Homo sapiens: one gene and its partner. The protein of the gene in region 2 interacts with the protein of the main gene of each other region in a biochemical or structural test. Each region holds a gene or a part of one and is shown on either strand. Other genes may lie near its edges.

The links. Proteins that work in one complex are often made in the same cells at the same time.
Region 1: the proteins of CAST (region 2) and CAPN1 are reported together in a solved structure, tested with the Homo sapiens proteins (one study listed by BioGRID).

The regions. Positions count from the first base shown.
Region 1 is NC_000011.10:65,179,734-65,183,482, reverse strand, and holds the start of CAPN1 (calpain-1 catalytic subunit), read right to left. Parts: upstream 1,556-3,749; 5' UTR 1,470-1,555; intron 1,032-1,469; exon of another isoform or gene 942-1,031; intron 783-941; 5' UTR 782-782; coding exon 515-781; intron 356-514; coding exon 286-355; intron 10-285; coding exon 1-9. UniProt on the Homo sapiens protein: Calcium-regulated non-lysosomal thiol-protease which catalyzes limited proteolysis of substrates involved in cytoskeletal remodeling and signal transduction. Proteolytically cleaves CTBP1 at 'Asn-375', 'Gly-387' and 'His-409'.
Region 2 is NC_000005.10:96,665,350-96,669,098, reverse strand, and holds part of CAST (calpastatin), read right to left. Parts: intron 1-3,749.

The DNA.
Region 1 (3,749 bases), on a different chromosome or scaffold from region 2:
AGCAGTCCCCTGGGGCAGGAGGGATGCACATTAGCCTGCTCTACCAACCTGCCCCGGGGGGGGAAGCGGGTGCTAGGGAGAATCTGGGGTTCCTTGGCCAGGGTGCCACTTAACTCCCCTCAGCTTGCAGAAAAGACCCAGGAATCTGGGCAAACCAGCCCCAGCGCTGATAGCCAGATCCTGCCTGGGCTTGCAAGAGGGAGGGGTTGGGGCAGAGCCTGAAGGAGCGGGAATGGGGAACTACTGTGGAAAAAATACCCGGGACCCGACGCCCTGGGGGCCTACCCAGTGCTCCCTGGCAGATGTCTGTGCGGGTAGCTCCATCCACAATGAACTGGGGGTTTGACAGCAGTTCCTACGAGAGACCCAGAGTCCTGTTCCTCGGCCAGCCCCTCCCAGAAATTGGCACCAGGCCACCCCAGACCCCATTCCCCACCAGGGACATGGAGTCCCATCCCTACTCCTCATCCAGGATCTGGCTTAGCCGAGTCCCACCCAGGATGGCCCCTCTCACCGTGGGACGCTTCCACTTGATGCCATAGGTCTTGGAGGAATTGGGACCCAGGTCCTTGTAACCCAGGCTCTGGGGTACCGGGGGGAAGGCCTCATCACGGAAGAGGGTCCCACTCTGCAGGCATCGCACCCGCAGCTGCTCATAATCCTGGCCCAGGTACTTGATGGCATTCTCATGGCGGCCCAGGCCCAGCTCCCTGGCCCGCTGCTTCTGCACTTGGGCTGACACCCCAGTGCAGTACACCGGCGTGATGATCTCCTCCGACATCCTGCCGGACAGATGGGCCTGCTCAGAACCCAGGCCTTCCCAAGACTAGAACCTGGGCTCCTGCCTGCAAGCTCTGCTCTCCTGCCCCTGCTTATCCATCCCCAAACCTAGGGTTTCCCTGCCTCACTGCTCCCCTCACAGAAGTAGGGTTCTCAGCCACCTCCCGGTGCTCCCAGTGAATCCAGGAAAGGGATTTCCCAGTTCCCAGGCGTGCCGGCCACCTCTCCTTTCCCGGATCCCATTGTCAGGGGCTTGCAGCTCTGTAGTGAGCCAGCAGGTCAGGTGGGGCAGGGCGGAGCCTCCAGACAGCACAAGGAACTGGGCAGGTGGGACACAGCAGGGAAGGCCTCTTTGATCCTGTTCACAGGCCTGCAACCCCCTCCCCAAACTAACCAAGCTCCTGGTGCACCGGCCCCTTGCCGTGGGCTGAAAACCCCAGACGGTCGGGGTCCCCCTCCTCAGGCCCCCGCAGCAGGCTCGATATCAGAGCTGGTGGGCCCTAGCCCAGCCCCTGGGGACAGCGGTGAGCCAGGCTGGGACAGGCGCCTGGGCTGTGCCGCTCCGCCAGCCCCCACCCCTGCTCCAGGAACGCAGAGGCCCCCGAGAAGGGACCGTGCTGGGGCAGCCCCTCAGCCCAGGAGCAGTGGCCAGGGTCAAGGAATCCCGGCTCGGCTACCCAGCTTCTTACCTGGGGGAGGGGTGTTTGGGGGTCGCTGCAGTCCCTGAGGCTGGCTTCCCGGTGGCAGCTCAGGGCAGGGCCCAACCAGGAAGAGCGCTCCTCCCCGCCCTCCTCCCGCCGCCCCTCCGCCCTCCGCCCTCCCTCTCTCCTTCTCCTCCTCCTCCTCCTGGGGCTCCTACCCCGCTTCCTCTCGGCTCTCCCTTATCTCTCCGGCACGGTCTCTGACTATCTCTTACTCACGGTGTCTCCCCGCCCCTCCCTCCGCAGGCCGGGGGCCAATTCCGCGAGAGGACAAATTAGTAAAAGGCAGAGCAGTCCCCGGGGAGGGGCCAGCGCGGGGGGGGATGGGGGGGCTGGGGCGCGGCGGAAGGGCACCGCGGGGAACGGAGGGGGAGGGCCGGGCAGGGGGTATTTTTAACCAGGGGCAGCAGCTCGAGTTGCAGGGCCGGACGGCCGCACCCCACGCGCGCCCTGGCGGGCATTCCGGGGCGATTGTGCGGCGGCGCCGCCTCCCGCAGCCCCGGGCCCGCCCGGTCCCCAGCTCCCCTCGCTCCGCGCGACCGCAGCTGCTCCCGCCGTTCCCAGCCAGCCCCGGCGCGGGGCCGAGATTACCTCGGGCTGCGGCAGCTGCTCTGAGGAGGGGCCGGGCTGGCAGCGAGCAGACCCCTGCCGGACACTCAGCAAACGGCAGCCTCACCCCGCAGGGCCGCGCCACTCCCCTTCCCCACCCCACCGCCGCGTCCCGGCTCAGCGCTCCCCGGGGAACGCAGGGGGACCGGGCTCGCTGCGTGACCTTGGGTAAGTCCCTGCCCCGTTCGGCCCGACTTTCCGCATGCGTGCATCCTATGGGATGGGGTTGGGCAATTGTGGGAGCCCATCTTTCTCTAACGTTCTGGGGTTTCTTGAACCTGGAAACTTAGAGAGGTGGACATCCCTGTTCTCTCCCCCAGGCTCTCAGCCCACCCACCTGGAAGCGCCCATGTGTCACCTTACCCAGGAGAGGGCGGCAGAGGCTGCGAGCAGGACGGCAGCCCCCTCTCCCCACCCCCAGGACCCTGAGATCCTGCTTCACGGGCTGCAAGAAGTTGGGGGGCCAGGATTCGGCGCGGAGGCCGGGGGTGTGGGTGGGGAGACTGCAGAGACTCCCGAGACCCCCCCAAGTCAGGGCTTTTCGCTGGTCTCGCAGCCCCAGCCCAGCAGCTGCTGCAGTCTTGCATGTTGTGGATGCAAGCATTTTGCTGAGGAAACTGCATAGCGTTCCCAGGACTCTAGGGCCCACGACCCCTCAAAAGTTAAGAGCCGCTGATCTAATCTAACCCCACTTTCACCCTCAGTTAACAAAAGAGGAAAACTGAGGCCTGAGAGGGTGTGACTTGCCTGAAATACCTAACCTGGTGAGTGATGGGTGGAACCAGCTCCTAGGCTTTCTGCGCAGGTGTCCAGGGACAGAGAAGGGTGGTTTAAACTAGAGAGGTGGCAGGCAGAAGTAGATGGATTTGATAACTATTTAGGATACACCATCAAAATTTAACTCAAACTGGATTACACACCTAAATATAAATGGCCAAACCATAAAACTTTTTTTTTTAAAAATGGAGACAATCTTAACAATATTGGGTTTGAAAAGATTTCTTTTTTCTTTTCTAAAGGCAGGGTCTTGCTTTCATTGACCAGGCAGGAGTGCAGTGCCCTGATCACAGCTCACTGTAACTTTAAACTCCTGGGCTCAAGAGATCCTCTCACCTCAGCCTCCTGAGTAGCTGAGACTACAGGCACGTGCCACGACACACAGCTAATTTTTAAATTTTTTGTAGAAATGGGGTCCTGCTGTGTTACTCAGGCTGGTCATGAACTCCTGGGCTCAAGCAGTCCTCCTGCCTGAGCCTCCCAAAGTGCTGGGATTACAGGTGTGAGCTTTGGCACCTGGCCAGATTTCTTAAATATGACACAAAAAGTGTAAATGATAGAAGAAATCAATAAATTGAACTTCATCAAAATAAAACGCTTTTGTTTCTCAAAATGCACGAAACTATTAAAAATGAAAAGATAAGCCATAGACTAGGACGAATATTTGTAAAAATTCTATCTGATGTAGGACTTGTATAAAGAACTTTTACAATTGAATAAAAATCCAATAAAAATGGACAAAACATTTGTTTGTTTTCTGGTGTTTGTTTTTGTTTTTGAGATGGAGTCCCGCTCCATCACCCAGGTTGGAATGCAGTGGCGCGATCCTGGCTCACTGCAACCTCCACCTCCTGGGTTCAAGCAATTCTCCTGCCTCAGCCT
Region 2 (3,749 bases):
GGAACTTTGCTGGCTGCAATTCTCTTGATGGATGGCCTCAAGTTGGGTTTAGCCAACAGCAGGCGCTGCCAGGAGACTAGAGGTGGTGGGTGGGTGGTATTCCCTTTGCCCCACCCCCTCCTCCAGTAGCACCTCCTGCAGGATGGGTTGGCTGTGGTTCCAGCTTCTGCAAGGTGACCCTTGTCCTCCCTGTGTCCCTCTAGACTAGGGATGGTAGCAGCTTCCTGCAATTTCTAATCTCTGGGTTGCCTCACCCTCCCCTGACGGCTTCCCAGCCTTTTTTTTTTTTACCTGGGTAACCAATTCCCTATGTTACACTCCCTTTGTTTTAAATACTCAGAGTCATTTCTGTCTGTTAGTTGACTGCAATAAACTCTGATAGGGCAGAAACAGCCTAGATTTGTAAGGCTATATGACCGTGACCTTGGGCAGATAATTTAATTTTTCAGTTTCTTTTTGTAAAATAGGGCTAATGGTATCTATCCCAGGGGCTGGCAAATTTATGAAAAGAGTTGACATTAGTGAGGCACCTGGTTCATTGCCTTGTTCATTTTAAGAACACAATTAAAATTATTTCACTCCCTTCTTTTTCCCTGGCAATCTGACTGTGGTGAATTAGAAGCCAGTGAGTTAAGGTTTGAGGGTTTCATTTTCTAAGGCTGTAAACATTAGAACAGAAGAATTTAGTATTTTACTTTCCCTAAAGTACAAAGGAACCTTATCAGGTTCATCTGATTAAGTTTTTGTTTAGTACTTTGTCTATCTCATGACTGTGTATTATATATTATTCTCACATCTTCGTATAACACTCAAGGAGATAAACTACATGGGGGTTAAAGAATTCATTTTCCCAACAAACTACAGCAATTTGGTTACAAGGATGACTTATATTTGCAATTCCCATGCTTTAAAACATGTTGAAAGGGTGTGTGTGTGTGTGTGTGTGTGCACGCGTGTCTGTGCTGGTAGCTGTGACGGTTAACAGATAAAACAAGATTAGGACAATGTTGACAATTATTGACACCAATGATTGGTATATGAAGAGGTCATTATACTTATTTATTTATTTATTCATTTATTTATTGAGACGGAGTCTTGCTCTGTCGCCCGGGCTGGAGTGCAGTGGTGCAATCTCGGCTTACTGCAAGCTCCGCCTCGCGGGTTCACGCCATTCTCCTGCCTCAGCCTCCTGAGTAGCTGGAATTACAGGCGCCTGCCACCACGCCCAGCTAATTTTTTTGTATTTTTAGTAGAGATGGGGTTTCACCATCTTGGCCAGGCTGGTCTTGAACTCCTGACCTTGTGATCCATCCGCCTCAGCCTCCCAAAGTGCTGGGATTACAGGCGTGAGCCAACCGCACCCAGCCTCATTATACTCTTCTCTTATTCTGTGTACTAATGCTTAATATATATTAAGGATTAACTGCATAGCTGTAATTCTGAAATCCCTCTGTTTTCACTGAACCCCAAGTGTTCGTTTTTTCTAACATTTTAAGATTTCAGTGGACATGACAAGATGACACTGTAAAGGTACAGGCCCTTTGTGTCCAATTTTCAGAGGTGGCATCTATTGCCTGTCATAGATTAGCTCCTGGGATTCACCTGAAGTAAGGCTGGATGAGTTTTTCTTAAGTCAAAGGGGGTATCATGAGAATTTAAATAGTTGCTTTGTTGCCACAGCAGTTGTCATGAGAATGAACTTGTAGTTTTATCTATGAGAAATGCAAGAGGAGGCCAGGCACAGACCACTGCACGATTTTTTTGTGTCCACCGCACTCTGCACAAAACTGACACACAGCAGGTGGACAATAAACAACTGTGAACATCTTTGAGCTTTACCAAATTTATTCTTATGTTCTATGAGTTTCCTACAACCAAAACAAATTTCATACATTTTTAGGAAACTATAACTTTAGACCTTTTTCTTCCTGAGTTAACTGACTTTTCCATCTGAGGAGATAACTTACATGAACAGTGTTTATTGGATGGAACTGTTCTTGCATTTTTCTTAACTGGAAGACATCTGATATACTTCCCCCTGCCCCCCGCCTTTATGGTGGCTGTAAAGCTTTCTGGGTATGTTTTCATGAAAGGAAAATGAGACAACTCAAAGAACAGAACTTTAGTATCTGTTAATATGATTTTCATCTTAAAAATACCTCAAGGGGGAAAAATGATGTACTACTTAGAGTAGTTTTGTATCTGCTGAGACAATCTAGTCAGAACTAATTACCCACCTATCCACATGGAATCTCACATGACCCCCCACTGTTCCCACCCCCAGAAGGCTATAGCATTCTTTAAAAGGCACCTGTAGAATATAATTAACCTTCTGGGAAGTGCCAAAACTGATTTAAAGAAAGATATTATCAGATGCTACTCTTGGTTTAAAAGGCTTATACACAATGGGGCGCGAACTAATTCAAAGACTGTCAGCTGAAAGAGAAAGGCTGTATTTGACCTCTATGTTTCCATTACCCTAAAGTCTATGCCCTTTTTGCAGGCCCTGTTATTTGCCTTCCTTAGTTCTAAAATTCACTGTGAGCAAGTGATCTGTCCTGCCATGGAAGGCTTGCAACATTCTTCCCAGGCTGGCAGCAATGATGGGGCCTCCCAAATGACTGGGCTCCTTGATCATGCTGTCACTAGGTCTATGGATCTAATTAGGCTAAGAAACACCTTTAATTAACATAGTCTAATAGAATCAACTGATGATTCAGGAATGTGATGACTGGTGTGGGCCAAATTAACCTTCGTTCATGCTTGATCATTACATAGCTCATAGATGTTCTTCAAATTTAGCTCTGCAGAGTTGTGTGGTGTGTGTGTGTGTGTGTGTGTTTACTACAACCACATTTTTCAGAAGATAAAGTCAATAGGATTGATGGCATTCAATGTGGAAATATACATTGCAACGTTTCACTGACTAGCTTTATAGGTGGCATGCTGTTAAACGAACACATCTGAGACATGTCTTTTAATTATTTCATTTTATTCTGCCTAAATTTTGAAAGTTAGATCATTTATAACCTTTTCAGTACTTAAAGGATTCCACAAAGATATTTTAATTATAGGATTTACCTGAAGTATTCTGAGATGTCTGTGTATATACCGATATCTGTGTTTATATCTGTAGATATATATGCATATAAATCTGTCTATATATGTATTATACATGCATGTGTACATACAGACAGACATCTGTATTTATATCTGTAGATACATACACACATAAATCTAGATGTCTACATATGTATTATACATGCATGTGTGTATTATATATAAATATGCACATATATGTATATTGGATTGTATATGTTTGTATGTGTGTATGTATATGTGTGTGTGTGTGTGTATGTGTGTGTGTGTGTGTTATAAACTGGCTCCATGGACCTTTGGGGGATTTATGGGTGGTCTTTTGGAAATCTCTGAACTCCCTGAAGCTATATTGGAAACTGCATTTTGTGTATGTTTGTATGTATTTTGTTGTGGGAAAGCAGTCCATAAATCCCATTTGATTCTCAAAATTGTCTGTGACCACCCACCTATCACCAAAGGAAAAAAAGAAAGTTTAGGAGTCCATGGTCTAGCGCTATACTGTCCATTACTATAGCCCCTAGCTGCTTGTGGCTACTGAACACTCTTGAAATGTGGCAAGTGTGAATTGAGATGTGCTGTTAATGTAAATATACATTGGATTTTGAAGAATTAGTATAAAAAAGAATGTAAAATATCTCAATGGCTTATAC